Linked DNA regions of Homo sapiens. Each later gene encodes a partner of the first gene's protein in a complex. Links are inferred from orthologs where the notes say so. Each region holds a gene or a part of one and is shown on either strand. Other genes may lie near its edges.

Region 1 (9,106 bases):
TATTATGTATCCAGAATTAAGGGCTTTTTGAACCCTTTTAATTATGGCTGGGAAAGACTAGTACAAATTGAGAAGTCCTGAAGGAACCCCTCCCATTATTGAAGAGACAGCCTGGACTACAGCTGCTGAAGGAAACCCAACTCCCCACACACTGGAATGAGGCCCTCCTGGCTGAGATGAACAGAGTATGAAAATTGAAGAGATTGTACTAACCTGAGAATTTGGGACTTTGGATTATTCCTAAAAGTAAAAAGATTGAAATTTGCTTCCTATTATATTTCCCACTCTCCCACTGAGCAGATTTTGCTCAGCCATGTTGCCCAATATAGGTAAGTAGAAGCTGCAACGAGAGTAAATGGCAATACAAAGATAATCCAAACATACTTGCATGATGACAAACATAAAGATTTCCAAAATTTTGATATGCTCCTATCCCATTTTAAAGTTACCTGGGAAAAAATAAAGGAAAAGAAAAAACTTAAATCCTTTTACTCTAGGAATAATCCAAAGTCCCAGATTCTTGGGTTAATACAATCACTTCAATTTTTATACTTTGTTCATCTCAGCCAGGAAGGCCTCATTCCAGTGTGTGGGGAGCTGGGTTTCTTTCAGCAGCTTTAGTCCAGGCTGTCTGTACAACAATGGGAGGTTCCTTCAGGACTTCTCAGTTTGTACCATTCTTTCCAACCATAATTGAAGGAGTCCAAAAAGCCCTTAATACTGGGGTGAAGGGGGTGGGGAGATTTGTTCCTCTGCTCAAGAGCCCACACGACTTCTTAGTGCTAAAAGAATGTTTCTCGAATTGCATTTCCTAAAACACCAGCATCTCAGAAGAAGTAAATAGGTGCTTTAATAATATTTTTAAATCTGTGACCCTGAAAGTTTGGAATATGTTGCTTAACATTCTATGCCAGATACTGTTCTAGTCACTAGAGATATATGCACGAGCAAAACAAACCAAAACCCCTGCCTATGGAAGCTGCAGGTCAGACAAGAAATACTATAAGTGCTTGAGGACCTTTTGGAAGATTTGCAAAGCAGACCGGCACATCATAAGACAAATTTTGATGTAAAGAAATAGATTTGATTTCATTTACATCAAGACGGCACAAATGTAAGATCCTGGTATAATTACTAACATCCTAAGGAACAATATTTGAGTCACTAGTTTAAGAAACACATGCTTACAACACTGAACACAAGTTACCCTGTCTTCAGTCAATATATCTCCTGATGTCACTGCTGCCCTGTATGGAAACTTTCTAATATAAAAAGAAGCCAAAGATCAGCCAAAAATATATTATGAGCATGGTAAGCTCAGCCCTTAAAAGGGCATGGAGGAAATCATGGGACTTGCTGGCAGGGAAGGGGGAAAGCACCAGGAATGGGGGTTATCAGGAAGAAAACTAATATGCAGATGAATGGAGGACAACACTCTGTGGCCACCACCCCCCCCCGCCCCCCCCCTCACTCCTACCATGAGAGGGAGGCCAATAAGGAACCCACTCTAACAGGGCAGGAGCTGGTCTACTCAGCTTCCAGGCCAGGCATCAATGAACCAGGTGGTCAGACCTGGCAATAGAGCAGGGAACAGCTGGGGAAGTAGGAGCACCAGATCAGGAATTTCACCCTGAATATGATCAGAATGAAGAAATAGCAGAATGGATTCAACTATACAGCCCAAAGGCCAGGGAAGTAGGCTCCAAGCAAGCCCAGGGAGATTTTCCCAGGCTCTTCTGACCTAAAGCATCAAAGATACCCTGCCTCTTTGCTGCCTCATAGAAAGCACTGATGACTAATTCCAAACCCAGCTGGCTTTCACTCACAGTTTAACACCTCTTTTTCAGCCCTTTTTGTTTGTTTGTTTGTTTGTTTTGTTTTGTTTGTTTTTTTTGAGACGGAGTCTCACTCTGTTGCCCAGGCTGGAGTGCAGTGGCGCGATCTCCCCTCACTGCAAGCTCCGCCTCCCAGGTTCACACCATTCTCCTGCCTCAGCCTCCTGAGTAGCTGGGACTACAGGTGCTCGCCACCATGCCCGGCTTATTTTTTTTGCATTTTCAGTACAGATGGGGTTTCACCACGTTAGCCAGGATGGTTTCGATCTCCTGACCTCGTGATCTGCCCGCCTTGGCCTCCCAAAGTGCTGGAATTACAGGCGTGAGCCACTGCGTCCAGCCATTTTCAGCCCTTTTAATTGAACCTGGCACTTTCAGGAAAGTGGTCACAAAAATGGCATAAAAAGCAACAGCCAGCACCTGTACCCCTGCTCAGAAGTTGCTCCAGGTCTCCCTCTCCACCACTAACTCCAATATTTCTTGCTCATCAGTCCCTCGACTTTTTTGTCCATTTTGGTCCTTGTGTCCCTTGGGTCCCTCTGGACTTGATGGTTGATCACCACCTGCCCCTGCATGTGATTGTCAGCACTGGCTCATCAGCTCCAAGTGCTGCCCCAGCACCCCAGCCTGTGGCCCTTCCTTCCCTTTGTCCCTGTCAAGACATGGAGAGTGGCCCTTGAGGACCTTCCTGTTGTTGGGGTCGGGGGTGATAATACCCAGGACCTGCTGCACTGACATGGGGGCCTGTGGGAGGAGTGGGGGTGAGGCAGGACCAGCATGTCAGTCAAGCCAGAAGGGCCTGCACCAAACCAACCAAACACTCAGGAAGGAGAGAAAGCAAACCCTGGGCTCGGCAGAGAGGCTGAATTTGGAGAGGAGCCGACATGGAAAGAGATTTGTTATTTGTGGTAGGCTTTTATTTGGTGGTGGGAAAAGAATGGCAAATATGTAACACAATATTTCTGTAACTATAAATAACCATAAATACCTTTCATAATGAAAACCTTATGGAATCTGCTTTACTGGGAGGTTTTTAAAATAGCAAAGGGTAAGGGAGGGAAATAACATGTATTTAACCCACACTATGTGCTAAACACCTTCCATATGCCTTTGCTTAGTCCTCTCACTTTTCTTCTGGAGAAGGTTTACCAATTTATAGAGGAGGAAAACGAGGCTGAGAGAGGTTCAGGAACTTAACTGAGGCTCCATGGTGAACCACAGATAGAAAGTAGATAGGCCAGGCTCCAAATCCCTCCCTCTTTCTGGAATCAAGCACAAGCCTGCCTAGAGGCAGGGGCTAGACTATATGATCTTTCTAGATTCTTCTCTGTTGTCAGGATTTCTAGAATTAGCTTATTCCCTGCAGGTGCCTCAATTCTTTCAGGATAGTAAGGACCCATCGGGTAAACTGTGAACATTAACTCAACAGAGAAGAGGGGGATCAGGTTCCAATTTACTCCTGTGGCCTGACAGTGTTCTACCCAGGAAAGCAAAAGACCTCAGGGAGCTCAGGTTTTATCTTCAGGACACAGGCTCTGGGAAGGGTGGGAGTAATAATGAAAGTAGAATTGGGAGATGCTGGGCTCTGCCACCATCTTGCTGTGTGACCTTGGATAAGTTTCTCCCCACTCTGGGCTCCAGTTTTCACATCTGGAAAATGCAGAGTTGGGTTAGGTGCTCAGGAAGCCTCAGCCCAGCTCTGACAGTTTTGTTTCACAAATGCTGGAGTTGACTTTGGTGGTTTGAGTAAGATGTTTCCCAATAAAGTCCACATCAGTAGCTTCCCCAAGCCTGGCTCAGCCCCTCTTTCTCTCCTTTCCTCCAAGGGTCCACACAAGCACCCCTCCCTGCAGCCCAGCCTGCACTGACCTGAACCTCCCGTGTCAGGGCCAGCTCCAGCAGCTGACCAAAGTGCTGGCCCAGCATGCTCAGGGTCTCACTCACGCAGGCCTTCATTGACTTCAGGACATGCTCATTCTCAACCTGAAGGCACCTGAAGAGAAGAAACCATGGGGTGGGCCACTGGAAAGGGCATGTGGTCAGCCCAGAAATGTTGCACGGGCCAGAACTGGACCTGCTACAAGCCTGGTGTGTGCTGAAGACATTGGCAACTGGGAGTCAGAGATGGAATATTCCACAGCTGGCTTGCCCACTGGTCTCTTAGTGTGCAGAGATGTGCTGGCCTGAGATGAGGACTACCAGTCCACATCAACAGGAAGAAAGGCCATCAGAATGTGGAAAATCTATACCTCTGGGCTTCTCCCTGCAGAATCTGCCATCATTGCAGCCAGGGTCTATCTTCTCTGTGATGTTGGGGTGGGAGATGAAGGGGCAAGAAGCTTCAAAGAGAGGTGCCAAGTGCCAGGTATTGCTAGTGAGCTCTGAAAAGGTGGATAGCAATGCCTGTGGCCCTTTAAGAAATGGCTGCCTAGAGTGTGCAGAGAGCCTTGAGAATTTTCTTCCCAGACAAGAAAAACAGAGGGGGATCAGGTTCCAATTTACTCCTGTGGCCTGACAGTGTTCTACCCAGGAAAGCAAAAGACCTCAGGGAGCTCAGGTTTTATCTTCAGGACACAGGCTCTGGGAAGGGTGAAGGAAAAAGTCAACACACACCTGGGTGTGTATACATGTGAGGCTGAGTGTGTGTACATATCTGAGTATAAACATATGTAGGTTTATGTGTGTGAAATATGGAGGAAAGGGTGTGAATGTATTTCTGTGCTGGTCCAAGCATGTGTTTATATATCTGTATATGAGAAAGTGAGTGTGGGCATTGAAGTCTATGTGTATGTGCGTGTGTAAGGGTGTGAGTGTCGGCTTTCACCTTGCCTTGACTCTTGCCTTGACTTTGGGGATCTGTGGGTCTTCCCAAAGCTGTGGGAAACCTTTTCCTTGTTACCAACTCCTAGAAAATCCTCTTTCTTCCTATGCCCAGGCCTCTCCTCTGCCTTTTACCCTATCCCTAGGGCCTGAACATGGGGCAGAAAATTTCAAGAGAATATTTTAAGATTTCTGATAAAAGTCAGAAAAAGGAAACTCTGAAACCACCACCACGCCTCCCATTCCCATTCTCCCTCTGGGAGAAGATACCAGCCCCTTCTCCTGCCAGAGGTCGGGTGGGCAGACCCTGGGAGATCTATGGTCCAAATTTACCTCTCTGTGACTGCCGAGAGCTCCGAGCATTTCTCCATTAGCAGCTTCTCAATCTGTAGAAAAATAAGTCCATTTTATTCAACTCAGTAAGCATTAACTGAGGACCAACTGCTGTGCTGAGCACACGGGGACATTAAACATGAAGAATCAATTAATGTGACTTGGGGAACAGGCAGTTAAAATATAACACAGTGTGATACAGGTGGTGAAAGAGCTCACGGTAGGCTGCTTTGGGAGTATAAGAAAATGAAACTGAGCAGTTATTTATGCTGAGGAAGCTGGGAAGCTTCAGGAAAGAAGGGGCATTTGAGCTGGGTTTTGAAGAATGAAGAGAAGTTTTAATGTCTGCAAAGCTAAGGAAGGAAAAGTTCGAGGCAAAGGGCAAAGCACTAATGTGAAATGAGAATGATGAAAGAGAATTAATAACAAGGGAGATTTTTAATGGTTCACCTTGGGCTTTGAGAAGAAGATTCAAAGTCATGGGCTGTGGACTCAGAAAAGCTTAGATTGGACCCTACTTATTACACCATTCACTGCGTAACTTTAAATAAATTATTTGGCCTCTTAGAACTTTTGTTTCCTCATCTATAAAATAAAGGTAATCCTAACATTTTTAATCAATTGCTTTAAGTGTTTTGCATATAACAATTCATCTAGTCCTCACAACAAATTTATAAAATAAATTATATTATTATACCTTTTAGGATGAAGGAACTGGGACACAGAGAAGTTAAGTAACTTGCTGAGGTCCACATAGCAGAGCTAACATTTCAACCCAAGCAGTCTGGCATTAAAGTCAATATATTCAACCACTGCACAGCTTCTCAAAGTAGTGGCACCTACCTCACAGGTTGTGCAGGTTAAATGAGATACATGTAAAAAAAAAACACCTAGCACAATGTCCACCACATAGTAGGCACTCAGTAAAGATTCCACTCTCTTTCTTTCCTCCTTTACTGGAAGGGGAGAAAGGCTTCTGGAGCAAAAAAGATTCAGACACCACATGATTCAAACCCACTCTTCTCTAAAGCACCCTGACTTCCAGTTCCCGCCCACTCCTATCCCAGGGCAGCTGACCTCGCCCATTTCCTTCAAGGAGTTCCTGCTGACAGCACTGTACTCGCTGACCATGGAGCGGGCATGGCAGGTCAGACGCACGCTCATGCTGTGCACCCGTGCCCAGCGGTCCTGGGCCAGCTTCTGCCCGATCCTGCGCAGCTCTGTGCTAATGACCCAACCCCGTTTGAGCAGCAGCTGCAGGGGGTCTCCAGGGCCAGGGCCACCTGCCAGGATGAGGTCACCCTGTGCATCCTCTTCCAGGCTGATGGGCTTGGCCTGCAGGACACACATGCACTCGCACTCGGTCATGAGCTTCAGATCTTCCATCCAGCGCTGGACTGAGTCCACCTGCATCAGGTGTAGCCTGCAACCAGGAAACAGCACCACGATAATTATCAACACCCCATGATTTCCAAAGGTCTCAATTCTAGGCCATCTGATATTTACTAAGCACCTATTATATGTTTAGCAGTGTTTCTCCCATTCATGCACCTTGATATTCTCAGTCATTTCTCATTCTCTTCATCTTATGGATAAGAAGTCTGAAGCATAAAGTTTTAAGGGCAGATGACCAGACTAACAAGCAACAGGTAATTATGTCTGACAGAGTAGCCAATGATCTTTACAATAAGGGGGAAATGGAAGGGTGAGGCAGGAATATTGCTTGAGGCCAGGAGTTCAAGACCAGCCTGGGCAACATAGCAAGATCCCATCTCTTTAAAAAAAGTTAATGGAAATAGCCTAAATATCAAATAATGGTTACACTAAGTGAGCTATGGTATAGCTATGATTATGTAGTACGCAATTATTTAAAATGATGCTTTCCAAAAGTTTATAGCTAAGAAAAATGTGTGTGCTAATATGCAAAAATGGAAATGTAAACACACAATTATTACAATAATGTTAGAAAGCTCCATCTAGGAAAAATATTTAAAGGAAACACATTACAATGCTAAAGGCTCTTAAGGAGTAATGTAACTAAAGTCTTTTTCATTTTTTTCAGCTTTTCTCTAGTTTCCAAATTTTCTATAGTGAGCATGTATATTACTTTTGTAATGGAACAAAATTAACTATATTTAGTACAACAGCATGAGAACATAGATTAGTTCCTAAGATCTTAATCAAATAAAATGCACTCTAAAATTCACTGAGTCAAGTAAAAGTCAGTAATATCAGATCATTGATAAAGCATTGTATATTTGTTGAGTCCCTTATATTTCATATAAGTGCCAGGCACTGTGGGAAAAGCAGATATGAAGATGTTAAGCCTCCACTCTCGAAAAGATTTTGATCTGCCTAAAGAATCAAGATAAACTAATGAGAAGTTAAAAGACAATTGTTATGTGTCAATTAAAAGTAAAGCTTGAAAACAAAACTAAACTAAAAAGACAATAACAAATTTCACTATCATTTCACAACAGAAGACATGCATAGCTAATGACTAAGGCTGAGTGCAAGTTCCTTTGTCTTTGGCTTGTAACAGTATTCTGATTAGTCTTTCTGCCGCTGATCTTACCTGCCTCAAACATTCTTCACCTGCCACCAGCTCATTCACTCATCTACAAATATCAGTACCTACAACATGTCAAGTATTGTTCTAAGACCTAGACTGTAGCAGCAAACAAATAATCACTTCTCTAGCCAATGTTACATTCAAGTGAGAGAACAGTCAATTTTCAAAATAAATGAGCAATGTATGTAATATGTTGCAAGTAGCAAATGCTAGGAAGGAAAAGAGAACAGAAAAAAAGACTAGAGAGTGCTAGGGGTGGGTGGGGGAGTAGACCTCACAATTTAAAATAAGAGGATCAGAGGAGACTCATTGAGAAAGAGACACTTGAGCAAAGACTTGAAGCACACGACGAAGGATGCCATGTGGCTATCTGAGGGCAAATTGCTCCAAGGAGAGAGATCAGCAAGTGCAAAGGCTCTGGGGGCAGAAGTGTCCTGAGATGTGCAAGGAATAGCAAGGAGGCCAGAGTAGCATGGGAATAGTCAGCCAAGGTGGAAGATGAGTTGAGAGCAATGAGGTGGGGGTGAGGGGAGTAGATCCTATGGGGCTGTGTTGGACAAGGTGGAGATTTGGCTTTTATTCTGAGTCAGTATAGCAAATAAAGGGCACCAATGAGGCCAGCCTGGTGAAGCAAAGGTACCAAGTAGGGTTGAAATTATAAGGCAGACTCCAGTTATCGAGGTTAAAAAATCATGTCTTCATGTTTACAGTTATTTAATGAGAAGGAGCAAGACTTTCTGAAATATGTAACCATTTGACTGTAGGCTTTTAAATGTAATTTTTAACCACACATCTTATGTTTAATTATGAAATTGAACATATGATTTCTTTTAGGAAATTGCTTTTTAAATTGTTTTTAAAAAATAACCAATGATTTCTCTGTCTCTGCCTCCCTTCATGGAAATAGCTATTACATTTTGTAAAGAATTTGAACATATACATATACATGCATATGTATGTGAACACATACATATATGTATATGTATACAGACACACAGAGAGAGAGAGAAACCCATTAAATCCAAAAATCACAGCACCCTACTGCCCATATATCCTTATGAAATCATATTTAATTTTATATTAAGTAGAATCACATCTCATGTACGGTTTGATTGCAGACAACTTCTAATCTTCTGCATCTTATTACCATTCCCTTATATTTGCCCACCCCTTCCAATCTCAGCCAACTAACTTTAACCTAGTAAGTATCATTTTATATTTTTCTCCATACTCATGCATTCTTACACAGACTTTTATCTAAGTATATATACATTTATAAGGTTTTCTGACCTATTGCTTTTTTTGTAAATATGACCATAGTATATACACATCTTGCTGCATTTTGATCTTCTTACTTAACTTTGAAATCTTTCAAGTCCTCCAGCAGAATCCTAAAACACTCTTTCCAATGTTTGAACACTATTCCATATTGCGTATATTCCACAACTTATTAAGCCATTTTCCCATTCCTGGGCATTCACTTTTTGTTCAGCTCCTGACCTCTATAAACAATGCAACATTCAACACTCTCATTCATATGTTCTGA
Region 2 (9,106 bases), on another chromosome or scaffold:
AACAGAACAAGACTCTGTCTCAACGGGGAAAAAAAGGCCAAGTGCAGTGGCTCACGCCTGTAATCCCAGCACTTTGGGAGGCCGAGGCGGGTGGATCACCCGAGGTCAGGAGTTCGAGACCAGCCTGGCCAACATGGCAAAACCCCATCTCTACTAAAAATATAAAAGTTAGCTGGGCATGGTGGCACACGCCTGTAGTCCCAGCTACTCAGGAGGCTGAGGCAGGAGCACTGCTTGAACCTGAGAGGCAGAGGTTGCAGTGAGCTGAGATTGCACACCACTGCACTCCAGCCTGGGTGACAGAGTGATACTCCATTTCAAAACAAAAACAAAAACAAAAACATATTCCCTAATCACCTTATTAAATGATGATAATATTTAAGTTTGCATTTATTTTATCGTTTAGTGCAATTACCAGAACTTGCAGAATATTAATAATCATAGTGCAGATAGCCTTGTTTTGTTCCTAATTGCATTAGAGATGTCATTAATATTTAACACTAAATATTAAACTGGCTATTGGTTATCATGTTTACAAAGTACCCACCTATTCCGACTTTATTTAATACCCATTCCTTCAAGATGCTCATTTATGAAGGCTGAGCTCCACACACGGATGGGGGTAGGCTGCATGCTCTCACAGACTGTCACTGGGTGCATGGTGTCTGTGGGTGACACTGACCTAAGCAGCCCATCTAGAAGGGTGCAATAGGAAGGTCTGTATGCAACCCTCTAGGAGTGAGGAATGAGAATGGGAGCCTGGCTTGCAACAGGCAGTGCCTGGGAGGATGGCAGGTAATGGCATTCTAGGCCATCCAAGGAATAAGGGGCAAAGTCTGGGAGGCAGAGAAACCTATGGGGTTTGGGGAATCGAAGGTGTGATGAGGAGATATGGAGGGCAATGAGGTGGGCAAGGCCAGGAGATGGGGACATCGCACTTGGTGCTCTGGGCCTCGAGGTGCAGGAGGGTTAGCGCCTCGGAGTCCCAGGGTAAGTGTATGTTACGTCCTGGAGAGCAGCTTTCTCAAAACCTTGAGCTCTACCTCCCCCACCTGCCTGTGTGGTTTTTTAGAGAGTTGTGTCTGTTACAGGCCTCTTTCTCCTCCTTAAAATGTTCAACCCACATTTTTAAAAAAAAATTTGCATTAGCTGCCAACATTTCAGAATTTGGAGACAGCACAATAAAGATTTAGATTTCCGGCCGGGCTTGGTGGCTCATGCCTATAATCCCAGCACTTTGGGAGGCCAAGGCGGGCATATCACTTGAGGCCAGGAGCTCAAGACCAGCCTGGTCAATATGGCAAAACCCTGTATCTACTAAAAATACAAAAAATTAGCTGGGCGTGGTGACACACGCCTATAATCCCAGCTACTCGGGAAGCTGAGACAAGAGAATCGCTTTAACATGGGAGGCGGAGGTTACAGTGAGCCAAACTCGTGCCACTGCACTCCAGCCTGGGCGTCAGAGTGAGACTGTCTCCAAAAAAAAAAAAACAAAAACACAAAAACACACACACACACACTCTTCAGATTTTCAGATTTCCTGGGCTCTTCTGAAAAATCAGGAAGACCTGCCCATTCTGTACCTTCATTCTGCCCAGCTATCACTTCCTGGCTATCTTCCCTCCTTTCCTGATGTGTATGTCTGATTTGGATCCTGATCTAGATCAGTGGGAAGCATCCACCCCCACCAACACACATACATGTGCATAACCTATTATATATAAGGTGTAGCCAAAGGGAGTGTGTTGTATTTGTGAAAGACACTTGTGGATGCAGAACAAAGGTGGGAACACTGGTCCTTACAATCTGCAACCTTCTACCAGGAATGTAGACAATCCATTTGGGCATCCAAGGGAACACTGTAAGTCCTAGAGGAGCCAGGCCATTTCCCTAGGGACCGTGAAGCTTGTGAGAGAATGCATGTGGGTGCCTTTCCTCAGCCTGACTTGCTTTCTGGAGTAAATTAGGGATTACCAAACCACTACTTCATGTAAAAATGTGGTCTTAAGTATTAAATCAGCAAAACAACACAAAATGTCACTAGACATTAAGCTTAAAAATGACATTTCTTTTGAACAGCGCTTGTTTGTATTTTAATAATAATGTATTTATATTAATGTGGATTAGGTACATATTTAAAACAGTAATAATGGTTGTGAAATAAAATTTCCTTTAAAGATAAAATAAAAAGCCAGGTGCAGTGGCACACACCTGTAGTTCCTGCTACTCTGGAGGCTGAGGCAGGAGGATTGCTTGAGCCCAGGAGTTTGAGACTTGCCTGGGCAATATAGTGAGACTCCCATCTCTGATAATATAGAAAAAGTAAAATTAATAAAATAAAAAATATACAAAAAAAGGAAATGAGAAGGGAATCAAAACAATACACTACAAAAAATAAAAATAAATCAAAAATAAAAAGTTCATGTCTAAAAGATCACATTAAATTACAATGCAAAGGTTTGGTCCTTCAGCTGACCACATTTTTAAAAAATCCACCTTTTAGCCCCAAAGATTTTCAAACATATTTCATTTACATATTTGCATTACATAAAAAGTTACAAATTATAAAGAAATTATTCATAAACTCTTCCAGAGAACATTAAACAAACCATAGTACATAATTGGTCTCTACTATCATTTTCTTACAGAAAGGAAAACTTACAACAAAAAGAAAATATTGTCTACAGACAATACTATGGCTGGTATATTTGAGTATTTTCAACTGAAACTTGAAATGGTCATCAGAGTTAAAAACACTTTAAAATAAGGATTAAAAGTCATCCATTAAGACAGCAATAGTCTTACCTGTAACGAACATGAAAAGAATGGTCTTCTCTCATGCTTATCAAATTTTCCTCCATCGAGTCATATTATAAGCTGAATAAAATAAAATTATTTTATTTTGTGCCAATCCAGTCCTTTACAATGTAGAATTGTTTGTAGAACATTGTCCGGTTAGTATATTAATGAGTTGGTGTTAATACATCCTAAGCTCCTGATTCTTCTTTATTAATAATGAAAGGAGGTCAATGTCAGACAGCTTAAAGGTTCAAAATGTATCCCAAATCCTTGCATCTCTGGCCCTTTCAGCAGCACTTCAGCAACATTTCTGCAAAAGGAATACAAGATGCTTTGCTTGAAGTCCTATTTTCAAAGAACAACCTACAGTAACCCTGAGCTGTACATAATCACAAGCTAACTCTGCAGACTGCTGTCATGTCAATCAATACAGAAGATAGCACAGGGCTTAACTGTCATCATGGAGCTTCTAAATAGGGGTGGGAATAGATGAGATTTGAGAACTGTAATTTTTAAAATATGTTTGAAATTTAATACTTTTATGTAATATTTTCTGCTATAAACAAAAAAGAACAGTATGTATCATATTAGCATCTAAAAACAAAATTGCTGCTTCAAACTTTTAAAAACTACTATTAACAAATCAAATGAAAATTCAATAATTATTTGAAATAGTCAACTCCAAACTCAGTAAATTTATTTCTTCAAAGAAGATATCACACTGATACTTCGGTTATAGTTGGATTCATTTGCTTTCAAAATATATTCTACTTAAACTCTTTAAGGTCTTTAAAATGTTTTTTATTAATATTGGGTAGGTACAAAAGACATTTGGGAAATATGTATATGGTAAAAAGAATGACACAACAAACATTTATATAACACCATTCAGTCTAAAATAAGAACATTACCTGCCTTTAAAGTCTCCTGGGTAGTCCAACCTAACCCATCTCCTTCCTTTTCCCTCTAAGGTGATTTCTAAACTGTATTTTGTTCCTTATTCCTTTGCTTGTCTTTACAACTTTAACACGAATGTCAGTATAGTCCTAAATAAGATACCATTTAGTTTTATATGATTTTGCTGAACGTTGTTTCTGAGATTTTTCTCAATTGTTGTGCATAGCTACAACTTGCATGTATATTCCATTGTATACCAAATGTATTTTTCATTCTGCTGTTGATGGACATTTGGATTATAGTTTTTTGGATTGCTGTTACTAACAGTATTAATATTCATGCCACTGCACTCCAGCCTGGTTGACAGAGCAAGACCCTGCCCCAAAACAAAATGAAACAAAAAACTACCATGAACACTGATATTAATAACTCAATGTACTAGTTAGGGCCAGGTGCAATGGCTCATGCCTGTAATCCCAGCACTTTGGGAGGCAGACACAGGTGATCACTTGAGGCCAGGAGTTCAAGACCAGCCTAGCCAACACGGTGAAACCCTGTCTCTACTAAAAATACAAAAGTTAGCCAGGTGTGGTGATGCAAGCCTGTAATCCCAGCTACTCAGGAGGCTGAGGCATGAGAATCACTTGAACCCGGGAGGTGGAGGTTGCAGTGAGCCTGAACCCGGGAGGCGGAGGTTGCAGTGAGCCAAGATTATGCCACTGCGCTCCAGCCCAGGCGACACAGTGCAACTCTGTCTGCCCCCACCAAAACAACAACAACAACAACAACAAACCCTCAATGTACTAGTTAAGCAGCTAAAGAAAGAATAAGCAGATGAAAAATAATAAAGAGAAGTTCAGAGAAAAGGAGGACAAAATGAGCAGCTCTATAATATATCTAATAGGAGGGTGAGAAAGAAAAAGAGAGGAATAAAGGTAAAATCTTCAGTGATAAAGACTGAGAATATTTAAATAAAAATGAATCCATACCGATACATTAGAGAGAGCTACAGCATATCAGACATAAACTATAACCTCTGAGATAACAGTTGAGAAAGACAAAGAAGGATATACATATACATATATGAGATAAATTGGTAGATATACAATCATAAAGTCCTGGAATCTCAGTGTTATAAACAATCCTAGAGGTCAGTTAGTCCACTATCTTACTATAGCATTCCTACATAGGTCATAAAGCAGCTAATCTTAATTTTGAATATTCCTGTAAGAAAATCGTTCCATACTTTGAGCAATTCTTCCATTTCTACCCATTTGTTCTACTTCTTCCTTCTGCTGCCATATACAATAAAGCCTAATTCCTCTTCTATATAACATCCTTTTAAGTATTTCAGCTATATCATAAACCAGACTAATGAATACTCACTGCTCTGTTAATTAAGTACAGCTAGAAGTTAATAGGGAACAGAGCAGAAGGTGAAAGGAGGGAAGGTAGAAAGAAACAGCCTTGGGAATACTGATGAAGTTTCCAAGAGGAAATGAGGTTTTCACATTAATAACAAGTTTAGCCTGCAAGAAACACAAAATAGTACTCCTCTTATCTCTTCCCTTGGCCAACAAAGGAAGCACTATCTTTTGTTGTTGTTTTGTTTTTTTAGAGATGGGATCTTGCTATGTTGCCCAGGTTGGAGTACAGTGGCTATTCACATCACAATCATAGCACACTGCAGCCTGGAACTCTTGGTGATCCTCTCGCTTCAACCTCCCAAGTAGCTGGGACTACAGGTGCATGCCACAGCACGGGCTAGGGAGCAGTATTTTAAGAAAGAACAAAAAGGTAGCAGCTATCAACACATCAAATAGCAGCTATCAACACATCAAATCTCTTTTCCTTTTGTTCAGAATTCCACTGTGCCTCTTTTTTCCTTAATAAAAAAATTAATAAAGGGAATTAGTGTGGATACTCATTGCAATAGCTCCAAAGGCGTCTAGATTACACAAACAGCTAAACTGGCAATGATATTATCTCCCGTTATCCACTATGAGGTTTGGGCTGTTATTTATAAAATGGAGCAGAAAGAGAGGTATTAGAATTAACTTACCTTAGAATTAAATTAAATTATAGTAGGTCCTCCAGATCTGTGGGTTCTGCATAGTGGATTCAACCAACCGCGTATCAAAAATATTCAGGAAAGAAAATGAAAAGTTGTGTCTCTACTGAACATGTAGACTTTTTTCCTTGGCATTGTTCCCTAAACAATACCATATAACAACTATTTACATAGCATTTACATCGTATTAGGTATCATAAATAATCTAGAGAGGATTAAAAGTTTGTGGGAAGATGCGTATAGGTTATATGCAAATACTATACCATGTTATATAAGGAACTTGAGCATCCATGGATTTTGGTATCCTCAGGGGGTCCTGGAACCAATTCCCCACAGATACTGATATTAAATTTAAATATTTTTCTTAGGTAGGCCCGGTGGCTGACATCTGTAATCCCAGTGCTTTGGGAGACCAAGGTGGAAGGATCACTTGAGACCAACAGTTCAAGACCAGCCCAGGCAACGTACAAGACCCCGTTTCTACAAAAAATTGAAAAATCAGCCAGGTGTGGTGGCCTGTGACTATAGCCCCAGCTACTTGGGAGGATGAGGCAGGAGGATTGCTTGAGCCCAGGAGTTGGAGGTTATAGTAATCGATGATTGCACCACTGCACTCCAGTCTGGGCCACAGAGTGAGACCCTGTCTCTAAAAAAATAAAACAAAATATTGTTCTCATCCATGAGTTCTTAATGAAATTCTAAATTTTGCAATTATAAAATGTTAATTTCATACTCCTTAAGATGTAAACATGTAGCATTTACATGTTTCACAAATTAACGAATAAGTAAATGAATATAAATAAAGTTGCAAAATATTTTACTTGATGAAAACTGCATGTAGAAAGAACCATTTCTAAGACCATTAAAATAAGCAAGAAGACAGAATGCTATTCACTATTTCAATAAGAGCAATTTATAATATAGTCTTACTATTCTCAAGGGAAGAATATCTTTAAAAGTGCCTCTTACATTACAATCTCCATAACAATTAGGTAGCACTTCACACAAAAAAATATTCACTGAACAAACAAGCAATTCTTGATTCATGATTCATGTTTTAAGAACTCTCTAGCCAATTTAGCAATAATGTGTTCACTCATGTTCCTCATTACATGGAGTTAACAAACCTACTTCCTAGATACAATGTGTGTGTATATAGTGTAAGACTAGTAAAATTTGCAACAAATATTAAATTACAAATTTGATCATTAGGATAAGAAAATTTAATCACAGGACGAAGAACTGGAAAATAATTTGTAGGTTTGAAAGGATATTGAGAAGTCATCAAGTTCAACCTCCAACCTCCACTACTATTTACAACTAACAATCTGCAAGGAACAAATCTGTCTCTTAATAGCATCTTCCAAGCAATGCTCCAAAAACCTCAAAATTAACAAAATTGCTAGATCACGGCATCTAACCATAAAGAAAAGGCAATCATTTTTTCCATATCCCGGGAATTGACAGAGACATATAGAAAGATCAACTAGTACATAACTCTAACTGCCTCACATTTAATTATCTGATTAGGAAGTCAAAATAGACAGACTCCCTTTAGACAGCTAGGTGGACTTCCAGGCACTGTCCAAGGTATGCAATCAGAGCAGACAAGAAAGGCTAGCTCTTTATCAAAGAAATCCTAGCCCTGCTTTACTCCACTGGCAGTAAAAAGTTTGCAAACCAGGTTACATTTTGTGCTTCTTCGAATTTATCTAAACTATCTGATCCTGACTGCCACTTAAATGCCAATAACTTTTGGTCTGTTTCTTTGTTTGTTTTTGGTCTGTTTCTTCCATCCATGGATCTACACAAACTGGTAACATTCATCAGACAATAAATATAATTTACTTTTCTTGCCACCAGGTTAGATCATCTGAACTATATATAAACCTTTTTGGTAAGCATAGCCATTTATTATTACCAACGATGGTCCAGTCATCAGCTTCAATCAATTAATACATATACATAATTTTAAAGCTCAATAGTGAAATAGAAAAGAAATGGTCCTTTCCACTAAGCATTGTTTTTTTTTTTTTTGAGACGGAGTCTCACTCTGTCGCCCAGGCTGGAGTGCAGTGGCGCCATCTTGGCTCACTGTAACCTCCACGTCCTGGGTTCAAGTGATTCTCCTCTCTCAGCCTCCCACAGGTGCCCAGCACCACGCCTGGCTAATTTTTGTATTTTTATCAGAGACAGGGTTTCGCCATGTTGGGCAGGCTGGTCTCGACTCCTGGTCTCAAGTGATCCGCCCACCTGGGCCCCTCAAAGTGCTGGGATTACAGGTGTGAGCCACTGCACCTGACCCAAACACATTTTAAAGCAGAAATAAATCCCAAATGCAGAAATATTATAAATGCTTAGAAAGGGTCCCTAGAGAGTTTGAGTTTAGAATTCTCCATAGGAAAATATATTAAACATGATTTTGTCTTCTCTTCCCAAAAGTTATCACCATTCTGTGGGAAAATAAATGTTTCTATTCAATAATGTTTTGTGATAATATGGGAATAATAATTCTAACTGAAAAGGACCAGGGAAAACTTTTTGGAAGCAAGGAATTTTGTACAGCACCTTGAAGGATGGGTAGATCTTATTAGCCAAATGAAGGAAAGGCATTCCAGTCAAGGGAAAAGAATGGCTCAAGAAAAAGGGAGGGTAGAAATGCACAGAATGTGTTCCAGGATAAGCACACAGTATTCAGAGTAGTGAAAGAGAAGGCTGAGAAGGTAGAACAGTAACAAACTGTGAGGGACTCTGAACATGTGGCAGAAGCATATATTCATATTCAGCCCCCCCTTTTTTTTTGAGATGGAGTCTTGATCTGTCACCCGGGCTGGAGTGCAGTGGCGCGATCTCGGCTCACTGCAACCTCCGCCTCCCTGCCTCAGCCTCCTGAGTAGCTTGGATTACAGGCGTGTGCCACCACACTGGGCTAACTATTGTATTTTTAGTACAGACGGGGTTTCACCACGTTGGTCAGGCTGGTGTTGAACTCCTGACCTCGTGATCCGCCCACCTCGGCCTCCCAAAGTGCTGGGATTACAGGCGTGAGCCACCGTACCCGGCCTCAGCCTTTTATTTACACAATGGGGAACCTTGCTGGTATTTTTTCCCCACAAAGGAATAGCCAAGTTGGATCTCTGCTAGGAAGATAAACCAGCAGCAACATATAAGGCAGGAATGGGGAGAAAAGAAAAATACTACAAAAACTCCAGAAACAACTACTGAATAGGAAGCATTTTCTTGTCATCTCACAACACCAACGACATTGCTTTGCACATAAGAGAGGCCCAACAAACTTTAATTTCTTCCCTGGGAAGAAGACAGGAATTATGACGA

Evidence for each region.
Region 2: the proteins of INSC (region 1) and GPSM2 are in contact, whole or in part, in a crystal structure (PDB 3RO3), measured with the Mus musculus proteins. The link is inferred for Homo sapiens from one-to-one orthologs. Residues at the interface, in XP_006507722.1 of Mus musculus: Val72, Asp73, Ser74, Val75, Arg77, Trp78, Met79, Asp81, Leu82, Lys83, Leu84, Met85, Thr86, Glu87; in NP_083798.2 of Mus musculus: Asn210, Tyr213, Leu214, Phe218, Arg242, Ser246, Asn247, Asn250, Ile253, Phe254, Tyr265, Gln283, Tyr286, Ser287, Asn290, Thr291, Thr293, Leu294, Arg323, Trp326, Ser327, Asn330.

Annotation. Positions count from the first base shown.
Region 1 is NC_000011.10:15,173,046-15,182,151, reverse strand, and holds part of INSC (protein inscuteable homolog), read right to left. Parts: intron 6,412-9,106; coding exon 6,066-6,411; intron 5,042-6,065; coding exon 4,989-5,041; intron 3,829-4,988; coding exon 3,705-3,828; intron 1-3,704. UniProt on the Homo sapiens protein: May function as an adapter linking the Par3 complex to the GPSM1/GPSM2 complex. Involved in spindle orientation during mitosis. May regulate cell proliferation and differentiation in the developing nervous system.
Region 2 is NC_000001.11:108,879,281-108,888,386, reverse strand, and holds part of GPSM2 (G-protein-signaling modulator 2), read right to left. Parts: intron 5,912-9,106; exon of another isoform or gene 5,762-5,911; intron 3,113-5,761; 5' UTR 2,865-3,112; coding exon 2,809-2,864; intron 1-2,808. UniProt on the Homo sapiens protein: Plays an important role in mitotic spindle pole organization via its interaction with NUMA1. Required for cortical dynein-dynactin complex recruitment during metaphase. Plays a role in metaphase spindle orientation.